Linked DNA regions of Homo sapiens: region 2 is linked to region 1. A link means that fine-mapping ties the variant in region 1 to the expression of a gene that starts in the linked region. Tissue or cell type: whole blood. Region 1 holds a variant in brackets; the other region holds the start of a gene. All regions are shown on one strand. Distances are from middle to middle.

Region 1 (8,100 bases):
TGATCAGCCCGCCTCGGCCTCCCAAAGTGCTGGGATTACAGGCATGAGCCACCGCGCCCGGCCTGGGCCATGTGCATTTTTATATTAAGCTTTTTATTAAGTAAACATTTGTAACAATAAAAATTTAAAAAAAGAGATTTAAAACTTCTACTCCTCAAAGACACTGTTACAAAAAAATGAAAAGAAAGACACATATTGGGATAAAACTTTTGCAAAACATATATCTAAACATAAAACAGGCCACGGGCAGCGGCTCATGCCTGTAATCCCAACACTTTGGGAGACCAAGGCAGGCAGATCTCTTGAGGTCAGGAGTTTGAGACCAGCCTGGCCGACATTGTGAAACCCTGTCTCTACTAAAAATACAAAAATTAGTGGGGTGTGGTGGTGCATGCCTGTAATCCCAGCCACTTGGGAGGCTGAGGCAGGAGAATTGCTTGAACCCGGGAGGCAGAGGTTGCAGTGAGCTGAGATTGCACCACTGCACTCCAGCCTGGGCGACAGAGCGAGACTCCGTCTCAAAAAATACAAAATAAATAATAAACATACAACAGAAGTAAAAAAAGAAAAAAAATCTGACAAGGGACTTCTATCTCGAATATGTAAAAGCCCTTACAACTCAACAAAAGATAAAAATGCCAACAACAATGGCAAGAAAAAAAAAACACAAAATGGCTGGGCACGGTGGCTCACACCTTTGGGAGGCCGTGGTGGGTGGATCATTTGAGGTCAGGAGTTCAAGACCAGCCTGACCAACCTGGTGAAACCCGGTCTCTACTAAAAAAACAAAAATTAGCCGGGCGTGGTGGGGCGCTCCTTCAATCCCAGGTACTTGGGAGGCTGAGGCAGGAGAATCGCTTGAACCTGGGAGGTGGAGGTTGCAGTGAACCGAGATCGCAACACTGCACTCTAGCCTGGGCGACAGACGGAGACTCCGTCTTAAAAAGAAAAGAAAAGAAAAGAAAAGAAAAGAGAAAAACACAACACAAATGAACAGACACTTCACCAAAGAAGATACGCAACTGTGGCCAGGCGAGGCGGCTCACACCTGTAATCTCAGCACTTTGGAAGGCTGAGGCGGGAGGATCACTCGAGCTCAGGAGTTCCAGACCATCCTGGGCAACATGGAGAGACCCCATCTCTACTAAAAATAAAAAAATTAAGGCCGGGTGCGGTGGATCACACCTGTAATCCCAGCACTTTGGTAGGCCAAGGCGGGCAGACCACCTGAGGTCAGGAGTTAGAGACCAGCCTGACCAAAATGGAGAAAACCCATCTCTACTAAAAATACAAAATTAGCCTAGCATGGTGGTGCATGCCTGTAATCCTAGCTAATCAGGAGGCTGAGGCAAGAGAATTGCTTGAACTGGGGAGGTGGAGGTTGCAGTGAGCCAAGATCGTGCCATTGCATTCCAGCCTGGGCAACAAGAGTGAAACTCCATCTAAAAAAAAAATTAGCTAGGCATGGTGGTATGCACCTGTATGGTTCCAGCTACTTGGGAGGCTCAGGTGGGAGGCTGGCTTGAGCTCAGGAGGCAGAGGCTGCAGTAAGCTGAGATCCTGCCACTGAACTGCGGCCTGAGCAACAGCGACAAAGTGAGACCATGTCCCAAAACAAAACAAAAAACACCAGTGCTGGGTGCAGTGGGTCACACCTGTAATCCCACTTTGGGAGGCTGAGGTGGGAGGATCCCTTGAGTCCAGGAGTTCAAGACCAGCCTGGATAACAAAGCAAGACACAATCTCTTTTTTGTTGTTGTTGTTTTTTGAGACAGAGTCTTGCTCTGTTGTCCAGGCTGGAGTGCAGTGGTGCGATCTCGGCCTAATGTAGCCTCCACCTCCTGGGTTCAAGCAATGCCTCAGCCTCCCAAATAGCTGGGATTACAGGAGCCAGCCACCACGCCTGGCTAATTTTTGTATATTTTTGGTCTTGCTGTGTTGGCCATGTTGGTCTCAAACTCTTGGCCTCAAGAGATCCACCCTCTGCAGCCTTCCAAAGTACTTGGATTACCGGCGTGAGCCACCATGCCCAGCCACTCTTAATTTTTATTTTTTTTTAAACAGAGTCTCACTCTGGTACCCAGGCTGGAGTGCAGTGACGTGATCTCTACCTCCTGGGTTCAAGTGATTCTCATGTCTCAGCCTCCCGAATAGCTGGGATTACAGATGTGTGCCACTACGCCCAGCTAATTTTTTTGTATTTTTAGTAGAAACAAGGTTTTACCACATTGGCCAGGCTGGTCTCAAACCCCTGACTTCAAGTGTTCTGTCCATTTTGGCCTCCCAAAGTGCTGGGGTTACAGGCGTGAGCCACTGAGACTGGCCTTAATTTTTTTTTTTTTTTTTTTTTGAGATGGAATCTCACTGTTGGCCAGGCTGGAGTGCAATGGCATGATCTCGGCTCACTGCAATCTCTGCCTCGCTGGTTCAAGCAATTCTCCTGCCTCAGCCTCCCGAGTACCTGGGATTACAGGCATGTGCCATCACACTCAGATAATTTTTTTTTAACTTTAAGTCCTGGGATACATGTGTCGAATGTGAGGTTTGTAACATTTTTGTATTTTTGGTAGAGACGAGGAGGTTTCTCCATATTGACTAGGCTGGTCTCGAACTCCTAACCTCAGGTGATCCACCCTCCTCGGCCTCCCAAAGTGCTGGGATTACAGGCATGAGCCACCGCGCCCAGCCCTCAGCCAATATTTTTAAAAATAATTTCATGGTATATCCACACAAGGGAGTATTACTCAGCAATAAAAATGCTTGTTGAGACGGGTGCAGTGGCTCACGCCTGTAATCCCAGCACTTTGGTAGGCTGAGGCAGGTGGATCACCTGAGGTCAGGAGTTCGAGATCAGCCTGGCCAACATGGTGAAACCCTGTCTCTACTAAAAATACAAAAATTAGCCGGGCGTGGTGGTGGGAGCCTGTAATCCCAGCTACTCAGGAGGCTGAGACAGGAGAATTGCTTGAACCCAGGAGGCGGAGGTTGCAGTGAGTGAAGATGGCACCGCTGCATTCCAGCCTGGGTGACAGAGTGAGACTCAGTCTCAAAAAAAAAAAAAAAGTTTGTTGAACAAGTGTATTACAATGTATTCCAAAGCTAACGCATGCAATGCCCAATTTGTTCACTAGATGGCAGCAAGAGCCAAGTCATTTCTAGTTGCTTCCAGGTGGGTCTACTGTGGCTACTCTTGCTTGTCACAGTAAACTGACAGAGCACTGTCCCCAATTAAAGATAGGAAAACAGAGGCGTAAAGAACACTGCTTTGTCAGAGCCAGGTTTCTGGTCTTCCAAATCAACAACCCATGAATGAGAACCCTCCCAGATCTCTTCCCCACACTGTTCCCTTCCCCTAAGTCTGGTAATTTCATCCATTTCCTGAAGTCAGAAGTACTCGGCCCGGGCCAGGTGCAGTGGCTCAAGTCTGTAATCCCAGCACTTTGGAAAGCCGAGGGAGGCGGATCACCTGAGTTCAGGAGTTCGAAACCAGCCTGGCCAACATGGCGGACACCCCCGTCTCTACTAAAAATACAAAAATTAGCTGGGCACCGTCGTGAGTGCCTGTAATCCCAGCTACTCAAGAGGCTGAGGCAGGAGAATAGCGTGAACCTGGGAGGTAGAGGTTGCAGTGAGCTGAGATCGCGCCATTGCACTCCAGCCTGGGCGACAGAACAAGACGCCGTCTCAAAAATAAATAAATAAATAAATAAATAAAATAAAATAAAAATGCAAAAATTAGGCCAGGAGTGGTGGCTCAAGCCTGTAATCCCAGCACTTTGGGAGGCTGAGGCGGGTGGATCACCTGAGGTCGGGAGTTCCAGACCAGCCTGACCAATATGGAGAGACCGCGTCTCTACTAAAAATACAAAACTAGACAGGTATGGTGGCGCATGCCTGTAATCCCAGCTGCTCAGGAGGCTGAGGCAGGAGAATTGCTTGAACCCGGGAGGCAGAGGTTGCAGTGAGCGGAGATCGCGCCATTGCACTCCAGCCTGGGGAACAAGAATGAAACTCCATCTCAAAAAAAAAAAAAACCCCAAACCAAACGAAAACAGCGGATCACGAGGTCAGGAGTTTGAGACCAGCCTGGACAATAGGGTGAAACCCTGTCTCTACTAAAAATACAAAAAAATTAGCCAGGTGTGGTGGCGCACAACTGTAGCCTCAGCTACTCCAGAGGCTGAGGCAGAAGAATTGCTTGAACCCAGGAGGTGGAGGTGGCAGGCAGTGAGCCGAGATTGCACCATTGCACTCCAGCCTGGGTGACAGAGCAAGACTGCTTCTCAAAAAAAAAAAAAAATTAGCCAGGTGTGGTGGCAGGTGTTCCTATAATCCCAGCTACCCCGGGGCTGAGATGGGAGGATCACTTGAGCCTGAGAGGCAGAGGTTGCAGTGAGCCGAGCCTAGATTGTGCCTCTGCATTCCAACCTGAGCTACAAAATGAGACCCTGTATCAAAAACAAAAACAAACCAAATCTCACACAGGTCCATACCAACCAGCCCCTGATCCTCGGTCTGAGGGGCTTGAGAGGGTAGGTTTTGGAGGGGTTGGGGAATGGTGGAGCTGCCCCTTGAACTCAGGATTATCAGGATGATGAAATCCAAAACTGTGGGCCGGGATCGGTGGCTCACACCTGTAATTTTAGCACTTTGGGAGGCCAAGGCAGGCAGATCGCTTGAGGTCG[G/T]GAGTTCCAGACTGGCCTGGCAAACATGGCGAAACTCTATCTCTACTAAAAATACAAAAATTAGCTGGGCGTTGTGGCGTGTGCCTGTAGTCTCAGCTACTCGGAAGGCAGAGGGAGGAGAATCGCTTGAACTGGGAGGTGGAGGTTGCAGTGAGCCGAGATTGCCCCACTGCACTCCAGCCTGGGCGACAGAGCGAGACTCCGTCTCAAAAAAAAAAAAAAAAAAGAAAAGAAAAGAAAAAAGAAAAAAAAAAGAAAAAACTGAGGTCCCTGTGTACAACTGGAGGAGTACATATGGGGAATGCCTAGGGCTTGTTTATATTATTAAGAGCAGTCGGCCGGGCGCGGTGGCTCATCCTTGTAATCCCAGCACTTCGGGAGGCCGAGGCGGGAGGATCACGACGTCAAGAGATCGAGACCATCCTGGCCAACATGGTGAAACCCCGCGTCTACTAAATATACAAAAATTAGCTGGGCGTGGTGGCGCGCCTGTAGTTCCAGCTAGTCGGAAGGTTGAGGCAGGAGAATCGCTTGAACTCAGGAGGCGGAGGTTGCAGTGAGCCGAGATCACACTACTGCACTCCAGCCTGGCGACAGAGGGAGACTCTGTTTCCAAAAAAAAAAAAAAAAGCGCAGTCCCCTTGACTTGGACAGGAGCTTTTGGGGAATTTATGCTCTCCATTTTGTGCTCAGAGGGTGGAAATGACTTCCGGCCTACTTTTCTGCCTCCTCCTGTTGCTGTGATCAGTGTCTGATCTTTACATTTTTCAATCCTGGAGAACTTCCTCAACTCCAGGAACTACGTAGCCCCTGGCGAATGCCCAGCTCCTACTCTTTTTTTTTTTTTTTTTTTTTTTAAGACGGAGTCTCGCTCTGTCGCCCAGGCTGGAGTGCAGTGGCCCGATCTCACCTCACGGCAAGCTCCGCCTCCCAGGTTCACGCCATTCTCCTGCCTCAGCCTCACGAGTAGCTAGGACTACAGGCGCCCTCCACCACGCCCAGCAAATTGTGTGTGTGTGTGTGTGTGTGTGTGTGTGTGTGTGTGTGTGTGTAGTAGAGACGGGGTTTCACCGTGTTAGCCAGGATGGTTTCAATCTCCTGACTTCGTGATCCGCCCGCCTCGGCCTCCCAAAGTGCTGGGATTACAGGCTTGAGCCACCGTGCCCAGCCTTTCTTCTTCTTTTTTTTTTTTTTTTGAGACAGTTTCGCTCTTGTTGCCCAGGCTGGAGTGCAGTGGCGCAATCTCAGCTCACTGCAACCTCCGCCTCCCGGGTCCAAGCGATTCTCCTACCTCAGCCTCTCGAATAGCTGGGGTTACAGACATACGCCACCACGCCCGGCTAATTTTGTATTTTTAGTAGAGATGGGGTTTCTCCATGTTGGTCAGGCTGGTCTCGAACTCCTGACCTCAGGTGATCTGCCCACCTCGGCCTCCCAAAGTCCTGGGATTATAGGCGTGAGCCACTGTGCGTGGCCCCCAATTCCTACTCGTACTCCTTTGCTCTCCAGTAAAGTATTTGTGCTTCCACAGAACCTTCTGCTTTGGAAAAACAGAGACCTTTCTCCATACGAAACTGACTGGGCATCAATTCAGAAGACACTTAAGCAACTTAGGAGAGCACCTAGCTCAGCTTCTTTCATAACCAGCGAGACAGATACCCCATCCCCCATTAGATCACTTCAAGGGAAGAGAAAGCTCCTGTGGCCAAGGCCTATACAGGCTGGGTAGGTTGGGGGTTGGTGTGCTGCTGACCTGCCGGGCCATTGCTTCATCTATCAGAACATTCTAGACATTGAAGAAACAGCAACATAGGGGTTGAAGTGTTGACTGACTAGGATTCAAACCTCAGCTCTGCTGCGTTGTCAAAAGGGGCCCAATCAGAGTCTACCTCTCCATTTGCAAAATGTAATACCATTAAAAAAAAAAAAAAAGGTAGTTCTGCTTCTGAGGCCCCTCCATTAGGCTAAGGGTGTGGCCAGTCACAGGTTCCCCAGGCTGGAAGATTCTTCAGACGTGGGTCCCTCTCTCTGGTAGGTCTGGGTTTACTAGAATGCATCTCAAACTCCAATAAGCAAGGTCTGACTTTTCAGGGAGATCTTAAGGGTAAGGAGGGCCAGGGAGGGTATTTCACCTGAGATCCCAGCCAGTCCTTCCAACAGCCAGATGCTGCTACTAATCCCACAGCACGTTCAAAGGGACAAAAGGGGACCAGTGACAACTGATTAAAGGAAAATGTGATCCTGAGTGACCCAGGACCTTGGGACTCTGAGGGGGAACCAAAGAGCTTAACTGGTTTAAAAACTTAAAAGGATCGGCCAGGCTTGGTGGCTCACACCTGTAATCCCAGCACTTTCAGAGGCCCAGGCGGGTGGATCACACGAGGTCAGGAGTTTGAGACCAGCCTGGCCAATATGGTAAAACCACGTCTCTAACTGAAAATACAAAAATTAGCCAGGCGTGGTGGTGTGCACCTGTAGTCCCAGCTACAGGGAGGGTGAAGCAGGACAACCACTTGGACCCCAGAAGTGGAGGTTGCAGTTTGCAGAGATCATGCCACTACACTCCAGCCTGGGGGACAAAGTGAGACTGTCTCAAAAAAACAAAAAAGAGAGCTTTCCAATGACACACACACCCCGCCCCATTTCTCCCCCAGCCCAGCTCACAGCCAATTACTAAATAGTGGAAAGGAGGCTACTTAAAAAGAAGTTCCCTATTTTCCTGTGGGGGTTACTGGGCTTTTTAGTAGGCCACTCACCCACTACCCTCGCACCAATCCCCCAAAGTCCGTACCCTACTTGAAGATTATGCTGTAATTATGGGTGCTGTGTTTATAGACCACAGATTTAACAGAACAAGCCCACAGAACACCCATCTTTTTTCCCCAATCAAGATTTTTTTATTCACAAAAGAACCACAACAATTTAGAGCTTCTCCATTTTTATTACACAAAATTGTTAAGTTTTCAGCAGTAGGGCTTCTCAAAACACCAGCTGCAGGCTATTACCTGAAAAAGACAAGGCAGTTATATTAGGTTCTCGTGTAAATATGAATATACAATCAAGTCAAGCTCCTGACAAATTATACATCAAGGATGTATATAGTTCAAAGATATTGTGCTGTTACCTCCCACCTCCCCAAAACTCCAAGAACTAGCACCTGCAGAGAAAAGGAGAAATACAGAAAGAGTCCTGAAGACAGATTAGTAGTCAAAGCAAAGACGCCGCAGGGATTTGAACCCCGTCCTGGAAACCAGGAGTGCCAACCACCAGCATCTTTTGCTTTTTTTTTTTTTAAGCTAGAAAAAGGCCAAAAAGCAAAACCTGAGAAAACAATACGTGTTGTTTTCTCAGGAAAAGAAAAACCTTCATGACCCTACTGAAGAGCATTGGAGATCAGCTTCCGCTAAGATGCTAG
Region 2 (8,081 bases), 48 kb before region 1:
TGAGTCCAGTCTGGCCAACATAGTGAAACCCCATCTTCACTAAAAATACAAAAGAATTTAGCCAGATGTGGTGGCATGAGCGTGTAGTCCCAGCTGATTGGGGATGCTGAGGTATGAGAATCGCTTGAACCCGGGAGATGAAGGTTGCAGAGTGGAGCCGAGATCGTACCACTGCACTCCAGCAGAGCAAGAGCTTGTCTCCAAAAGAATCCAAAAAAACCCCAAAAATCCTAAAGTTAGCGAAGCATGGTTGTGCACCTATGGTTCCACCTACTGAGGCGGCGGTGGGAGGGGGGGTTTAGGTGGGAGGATCCCTCGAGGCTGCTTAAGGGATGTTGAGGCTGCAGTGAGCCAAGATCATGTCACTGCACTCCAGCCCTGGCACAGAGTGAGACCCTGTCTCAAAAAAAAAAAAAAAAAAAAAAAGTGTGCTGGCAGATTCTAGGCAAATGAGGTGCCACATGTAGTGATGAGGTTAGAAAAGATGTTCAGGCCAAAGAGACCATGTGTGTTGGGCTTTGTCAGCTTGCCCTGCAGACCCCTTCTGCATTCCTGACCTCCCTGCTGAGCTGGAAAGCTAAGCTCCACCTGCTGTACCCCCAGGCCCCTCAGCCCACAGGCTTTCTTCTGGGTTCAGCCCACGGTTGGCCCAGCTGGAGACCCGTGGCTAGGAAGAGATTAGGGTGATAATTGTTCCCCCAGCGCCCTCCCTGCAGACTGCAGAGGGCCAGGGGCTGCTGCTCTGCTTCAGGCCACACCTCTCAGGCACCCTCCCTGGTTATGCCAGTGGAGCAATGTGCACTGGAGTGATGTCCCTCTGTTGCTAGCCCCAGTGGTTTCAGCTATTTCCTGCGGAGGCCCTGAGAGCTGAAGGAATTTGGTTGGATATCATTTGAGTTGGGCATCATTACTGGGCTGGACACTTTCATTGATCCTTCTCACTGAGTCCCCTCATCAGCCCCTGAAGAAGGGCTGTTATCCCCCCATCATACTGGCAGCAGCTTTAGACACCGAGGGCCACACCGTCCTCCTGGCTCTTCCCCACCACACTCCTGGTTTTCCTCTCTGCTCCCTCCAGCTGCTCTTTCTGGTCTTTCGCCTGACTCCGCCTCCTCTCCCTGCCTGACTCCGCCTCCTCTCCCTGACCCGGGAACAGTGATCTCCCTGGGCACCCTGGGCTCTCTTCTCTCCATAGTAAGCCCACCCTTTCCCGCTGTCGTAGATGCCCCCTGTATAACCCCAAGCCTCTGTCTCCAGGCCAGACATCCTGTCTGAGCTGCAGACTCCCGGGTTCGGGCACCTCCACTTGGATGACTCACAAGCATCTCAAACTCAGCAGGACCAGAACAGAGCTGTGGACCCTGCCCCATGTTTCCAGCTCCTCTGCCTCCCCTCTTCTTCGCCCATCCAGAGATCAGGCCAGGAATCTGGGGGCCATTCATGCCACCTACCTCTCCAGCACCCCTACTTCACCCAGTCTTTACATCTCCCCTCCCAAATACATCTCTCCCAGGGCCAAGTGAGATCTCTCTCCTGGGATGAAGGCAGAGTGCCCGCTCTTGCCCTGACACAGTCCCACTGCAATGAGAATAAAAGCAAATTCCTCACCATGGCCGGCCCCTCCCACCACCACTACACCTTCGGCTCTCCCTCTCCACCACACCCTGTTGTTCCACTGGCCTTCCCTCAGTTCTCTGGATAGCCTCCCCCTGCAGCCTCCCCTGAGGTCAGATGCCCACAGGTGTGACTCACTCCTACTCATCTTCCAGCTTCCGATGGAAGACTCTCTTTGTCTCCCAGGTCCCAGCCCTCTCCTGTCCTGCTTCCCTGCCCTTCTCTGTCACGGTACCAGCCTCTGTTGTAGCCACAGTTCTGTGTGAATTGATCTGGCACATATCCAGCTCTCCTAGTACAGCAGCTCCAGGAAGGCAGGACTGGTTCTATTTGTGGCCAAGAGCTTAGGATGTGGTGGAGTCTCAGTTTGTTGAGTGAATTTTTTACATTTATTTTTTAATTTTTTGTTTTTTATTACCAGTAGTTGAACATAGATGTTGAGTGAATAGATACCCATCTCACAAGCAAGGAAACTGGGGCTTAGAGACAGTAAGAATCCAACCCTGGACTGTTTGACTGTGCTGTGCTCCATGGTGAGCCACAGCCAGCTCTAGGCAGAGTCAGGACAGGTTCAGATGAGTGTTAGGAAAAAATGAGTATACAATGCTCAGCCCTGTGCCTGGCAGGTGGTCGGCACCTAGCATTATTCCCTGCCTCCGTGTGGACCAGGGCCCCAAGAAGCAGGGGCTTGCCCCTCACACCCCATCCTGGATTCCGGCAGCAGGGATCCCTGGGGACATGTGATTGTCCCTCCCAGCCCTGCACCGCTTAGTAAGGGGGACTTACTAAGCGTCCCCCTAAAGCTACCCACATCAACTTACGCTCAAAGTAAAAACAGAGTTCCTTGGACAGGTGTGCCTGAAAGTGAGTCCCTGAACCTCCTCTCCCCAATTAGACTGCTGCCCCGGGTGCTGTCCGGGAGAGGGTCTGGTGCCGCCCTGACTTGGCAGCGCTTTTCCTGGATGTGCCCTAGCCGTCCCCACCTCCTGCTGAGTTCTGTGAGTCAGAGACGGAACCCTGGGGTCTCCTGGCAGGCCCCACAGTAAGGCCTGGGCCCCCGCACGTTGCAGCCTTTCCTTCCAGACCAGCGGACAAGCCTGGTCTGGAACTATGCTCCTCTCCAGCCATGGCCAACCTGAAGACCCCCACCCCCAGCCGCTGCCAGCCCCTGCCCTGGGGCTCTGCTGTGCCCCTCTCCAGCCCCTGGGCCCTCGGACAGCGCCCCCGTCCTCCCGGCTGTTAGCCTGGGAAGGGGGCCAGGCCCTGAGCTCAGACCTTGGCGATTCCAGAGTGTCTGAGGCCCAGAGCCAGCCCCGCCAGCACGGCCAGACGAAAGGAAAGGGGGGAGGTGGCAGGGTGGGCACCAGGAAGCCATTCCGAGGGGGCTGGCAGGGAAGCTGGGTTCTAGCTTTGTTCTTTCTGCTCCTCTTCTGGACCCCACAGACTTCCTCCTGGGACCTCCGTGAGCCCTGGCCAAAGGCTGTCCCCACCCTTTAGCCCTTTCCTCAGAGGGGATTGGACCAGCACTAACGAGAAGTTACTTTGGGGCCCTGAGACCCCCACGTTTGCAAGGGAGGCTGGGAAAGAGCTGGAAGGCCTGGGCTCCGGCTCCACCCGGCCTCCATCGTCAGTGTGACCCGGCAGGGCCACCTCTCTCCCTCAGCCTCGGTATCTCGCTCTACGCAGGCCTCCCCGCCCCGCCCCGCCCGGAGGAATCCGCGGCCGGCCAGACGGTCCCAGGTGAGGGCCCTCTGGAAAGGGCCCAGCGCGGCCGCGGGTTCCGGCGGGGGCGGGCATCTGGGGTGGGGACTGTCCCCGCGCCACCCCCCAGCCTCCGCCAGCCTGCACACCCTCGCTTCTCCAGGCGGCAGAGGCGACGCTTTAAACAACAAAAAAAAAAAAACTGTGTCCCTGGCCCGGGGCCAGCGTCCCAGCCCCCCTCGCCGCCGCCGCGCCGCGCTCCAGCCAGGGAAAACAACTGCTCACTTCTCCCTGAGCCCTCCCCGCGCGCTCCCTGCCTCCCCGCGGCCGCGGGAGAGGAGCCCGGCCAGGGGGAGGCGCGGAGCGGGCCGGCCGCCCGGCCTTCCTCTCCCTCGCTCCTCCTCTCCGCCTCAACTTGCTCCGGCCTCCTCGCTCCTGCCTGAGTTCGGGGCCTGGTCTGGGCTTCGTCCTGGGGCTGGGAAGTTTCTGCGCTCCCCGCTGTCCAGTCTGCATCTCCGCGCCTCCCGCCGGGCCCCCGCGGTCCCCTCCCGCCCGCTTCCCCCGCTGCCCTCCCTCGCTGCCCCCTACCCTCTCCCGGGGCTCCCGGCCCTCTACTCCCTTCGGGCGCGGGCCCCTCGCCCCGCCCGGGCGCGCCCCCCCTCCCCCGGGTCCTGCGGCCCCGGATGCCCGGGCCCCGAGGGGCTGCTGGCGGCCTGGCCCCTGAGATGCGCGGGGCGGGGGCGGCGGGGCTGCTGGCGCTGCTGCTGCTGCTGCTGCTGCTGCTGCTGGGCCTGGGCGGCAGGGTCGAGGGGGGGCCGGCCGGCGAGCGGGGCGCAGGCGGGGGCGGGGCGCTGGCCCGCGAGCGCTTCAAGGTGGTCTTTGCGCCGGTGATCTGCAAGCGGACCTGTCTCAAGGGCCAGTGTCGGGACAGTTGTCAGCAGGGCTCCAACATGACGCTCATCGGAGAGAACGGCCACAGCACAGACACGCTCACGGGCTCCGGCTTCCGCGTGGGTGAGGGCCGGGGGCACGGCTGGGGGCAGGGGAAGGACAGGCACCAGGCCCGGTGGGAGAGCTAGTGGGGTCTTGGCCTTAGAGACTGGGGGCTGAGGGTATAAAGGGCAGAGATCCGAGGGCCTGGGGGACCAGGGGCCTCAGGGAACTTGGGAGGCTGGAACTCTGGGGGCCAGAGTTGGAGGGCTGCATGGAGGCCTGGACTTTGAAGCTTTGCGTTAGGGTTGGGGCCTAAGGGGTGGGGAAATGCAGAGGTCCTGGATGACACTGGCTTCCCAGAAGGTGCTGAGTTCTGAGCAGGAGCACACAGGGTTTTTGAGGAATGTGAGCCGGGGACAGGAAGCCTCAGAGAAGGGCTAAATATTCCCGCAAGAAGCAGACTTGCTGGAAGAAACAAGAAAAGTCTTTACAAAATGTCTAAAGTAGGGCCTGCCAGAGTAGACACCTGCATTCCCTGGGAGGAGGAGCTAAGGTCAGGGCTGGGGATGGGAGCCGGCTACTGGCAAGGTCTGAGTAGGGAGGGTGTTGAGGCCTAAAAGTAGGGTGCAGGCCTGAAGGTAGGGACTAGTTCGGGGTTCTCAGCCTCTCCTTTTCCAATGCCTCCCCATAAGCTCCTAACATCCTGCCTCAGAGGCCCTCAGGGCCCCCCTCATCCTCCCCCAAGCCCCTACACCCTCCCCAGTTCAGCTTGGAGTCCACCCCCTCCCCAGCATCTCTCTTTAAAGGGCCAGGCCTGGGGCTCAGTCATCCTCCTGCTAGGCCCCGTGGGCCAGGCTCGGGGAGGTGTCCCAGCAGTAATTACCCTCCTGGACAGGGTAATTAGGCCAGGCCCAGGATGGCACCAGCAAAACAGCCCCTCTTACACATTCCTATATTCACTCTCCCACTCACAGAGCTAAGGAACCCCACTCATGTGGCTCAAATTTGTCATGAGATGGGGTGTGCGTGCGTGTGTCTGTGCGCATATTGCCCCTGTGTCTGGGGTCATGCCATGGGCATGGCGTGGCACACTGTGAAGTACCCGTCTTTGTGTTGTCTTGGGTGTGTGTCTCTAGTCGCTGTTAGAGAGTATGTGGGAATGTTTTTGTTTTTGTGTTTTTGAGATGGAGTTTTGCTCTTGTTACCCAGGCTGGAGTGCAATGGCGCAATCTCAGCTCACTGCAACCTCCCCCTTCTGGGTTCAAGTGATTCTCCTGCCTCAGCCTCCCAAGTAGCTGGGATTACAGGCATGCGCCACCACGCCTGGCCAATTTTTTTGTATTTAGTAGAGATGGAGTTTCACCATGTTGGTCAGCCTGGTCTCAAACTCCTGATCTCGAGTGATCTACCTGCCTCGGCCTCCCAAAGTGCTGGGATTACAGGTGTGAGCCACTGCGCCCGGCCAAATGTATGGGAATGTTTATGTGAACCTGTGTTGGTGTCAGGATGAGTCTCTGTGTGTGTGTGACAAGAGGACTGTGGGTGTGAGTGTACGTGTGTCCATCTCCCAGGCTCCCTGGCCATCCTGCCCAGGCTGCTGTCTCCATCTGTGCTGCCCACATCCCCCAGGCTCGGTGCCCAGGCCACAGTGGGCGGGTGTCATTGGGAGGTCACTCTCACCGCTATGAGTGACTCACTGGCAGAAAGGAAAAAGAGAATCCTACCTCCCCCCGCCCAGGACACACCCCTCTGCTCTGTGAGGCCTGGCCCCAAGAGGCCAGGCAGGATGGGCTGGGCTGGGATGTGCTTAGCCTGACCCTGAGGGCCATGGATATGGGCTGTCCCTGTGAGGCCCTTCTGGCATCCAGGAGAGCAGCACCCCCGCCCTCCTGCCCTCCTGCCCTGGGAAGTGAGGGCAGCCATGGGGTGGGCAGGAGAAGGGCTGGGGCTTTGGGATGAGTCAGAGCCCCAAGGCTGGTAGTAGCACAGGTTGAAGGTGAGTATGGGACAGAAACAGACAGAGGTCCCATCCTCTCCCTCAGTCATTCTTTCATTCATTCCCCCGAACCCCCTGTGGGACCCAGAGCTGAGGCCAGCCTGGCCCTGCCTTCCAGAGCACCCTCTATAAGGAGGCAGACAGACAAGAACATAGCCAAGCAGGTGCCAGGCAGAGCTGGCCAGTGGGTGGTAAGGCAGGAGAGGGAGCTCAGGGGGGCCGGATAGGAGGAAAGCCTCCCTCCTGGTGGAGACACTGAGCTAGGAAGGATGAGATCTGCATATATAGAGAGGGGGGGGACCTGGGGCCCTGTTGTGGAGGGAAGGGCATGGATGAGGCCAGGAGGCAGGAGGCAGGCACATTTGCAAGAGGGAGATGGGTCCTGGGGTGTGCAGTACACAGGGAAGGAGCAGAGGGGGATGGGCTGAAAAGGTTCTGGTCCATGGAGTGAGCTTCTGCCTGAGGCAGGTTTCTCTGGGACACTGAGATTGTGGACCAGCAGGAGAGGCTGGAAGCCAAGGAGGGGTCTGGGTGGCCAGGCCTGGGCCAGGGCAGGAGCAGTGGCCCTAGGGAGGAGGGGAGGCAGGTTCATGGGACATTAGAGGCTGTAACTGGGCAGGGGAGAGCAGGAGGGACGGAGCCGTCGGGGCTCAGCTGTGGATGCCTGGTGGCCAGGTGAAGAGGAGGTGGGGAGGCAGGATGCTGACTTCTGACAGTATGTCCTGGGCAGAGGTGCCTGAGAGAGCCCTGGAAAGGCTGGGGGCTGTGTCTGTGTCTTGAGATGTGGACATCTTTGGCAGTGGTGAGGTGGGCGCCCCAGGATGGTGAAGAGGGAGAGGGTGGAGAGCAGGCAGAGAGGACTGAGGCCTGAAGGAGGGAAGGGTTTATGGGAGAAGAGGAGGAGGCGCCAGGGACGGAGCCAATACCTTTGGAAGGCTCAAGGGGAAAGCCAGATCACCATAATTATTTGCTACCACTTATTAAGCACCCTTTGTGTACCAGGCCCTGGGGTAAGCATTTGTACAGCCCTTACCTCATCTAACCCACACATCTCTACAGATGAGGACGCTGGGGCACAGGGAGGGGACGTGAGTTGCTCAGGGTCGCACAGCTGGCACATGGCTTAGCGAGGATTTAAATCCTGGACTTGAGACTCCAGAACCCAACATAGGTGTAAGGATGTTGGGGAACCTAGAGAGGGCAGTTTCCCTATGTAGGATGTATCTCAAAACCTGGCTTCCCAAGAGGACAGAGCCAGTGGGTGGCAAGGAAGTAGGGAGGAGGGGAAAGAGACAGGATGTGGGTGAGGGCCTGACCCCACTCTTCTCCCCAGTGGTGTGCCCTCTCCCCTGCATGAATGGCGGCCAGTGCTCCTCGCGAAACCAGTGCCTGTGTCCCCCGGACTTCACTGGGCGCTTCTGCCAGGTGCCCGCAGGAGGAGCCGGTGGGGGTACCGGCGGCTCAGGCCCCGGCCTGAGCAGGACAGGGGCCCTGTCCACAGGGGCGCTGCCGCCCCTGGCTCCGGAGGGCGACTCTGTGGCCAGCAAGCACGCCATCTACGCCGTCCAGGTGATCGCTGACCCTCCTGGGCCCGGGGAGGGGCCTCCTGCCCAGCACGCAGCCTTCCTGGTGCCCCTAGGCCCGGGACAGATCTCAGCAGAAGGTACCAGGCAACTGGCAAACCCGGGAAGGTCGCCAGTGGGTGGGCACTAGGGTGGCCAGGGCAGGGCAGGTTCAGCCCTGGAGGAGCTCAGCGCGGTGACCCGCGGCGCGGTGCGGGCAGCCCTGAGGCCACCGCGCCCGCCCCCAGTGCAGGCCCCGCCCCCCGTGGTGAATG

Evidence for each region. PIP is the estimated chance that this variant, and not a neighbour inherited with it, causes the effect.
Region 2: LTBP3 starts here. The variant in region 1 is fine-mapped to the expression of LTBP3 in whole blood (TOPMed, PIP above 0.99).

Annotation. Positions count from the first base shown.
Region 1 is chr11:65,505,976-65,514,075 of GRCh38, reverse strand. It overlaps MALAT1 (metastasis associated lung adenocarcinoma transcript 1), which reads right to left. Exons shown (of 1, transcript NR_002819.5): 1 at 7,560-8,100. It also overlaps TALAM1 and MASCRNA. Among named protein-coding and RNA genes, the nearest start is that of MALAT1, 11 kb to the right of the region's middle. RefSeq lists enhancers at 6,215-6,284, 6,001-6,682, 6,395-6,704, 7,205-7,304. The variant G/T (reference allele first, on the strand shown) is at 4,686.
Region 2 is chr11:65,553,877-65,561,957 of GRCh38, reverse strand. LTBP3 (latent transforming growth factor beta binding protein 3) reads left to right here and starts at 3,599. Exons shown (of 28, transcript NM_001130144.3): 1 at 3,599-4,329; 2 at 7,578-7,907; 3 at 8,055-8,081. The coding sequence starts at 3,999. RefSeq lists an enhancer at 166-829 and silencers at 3,321-3,480, 3,531-3,770.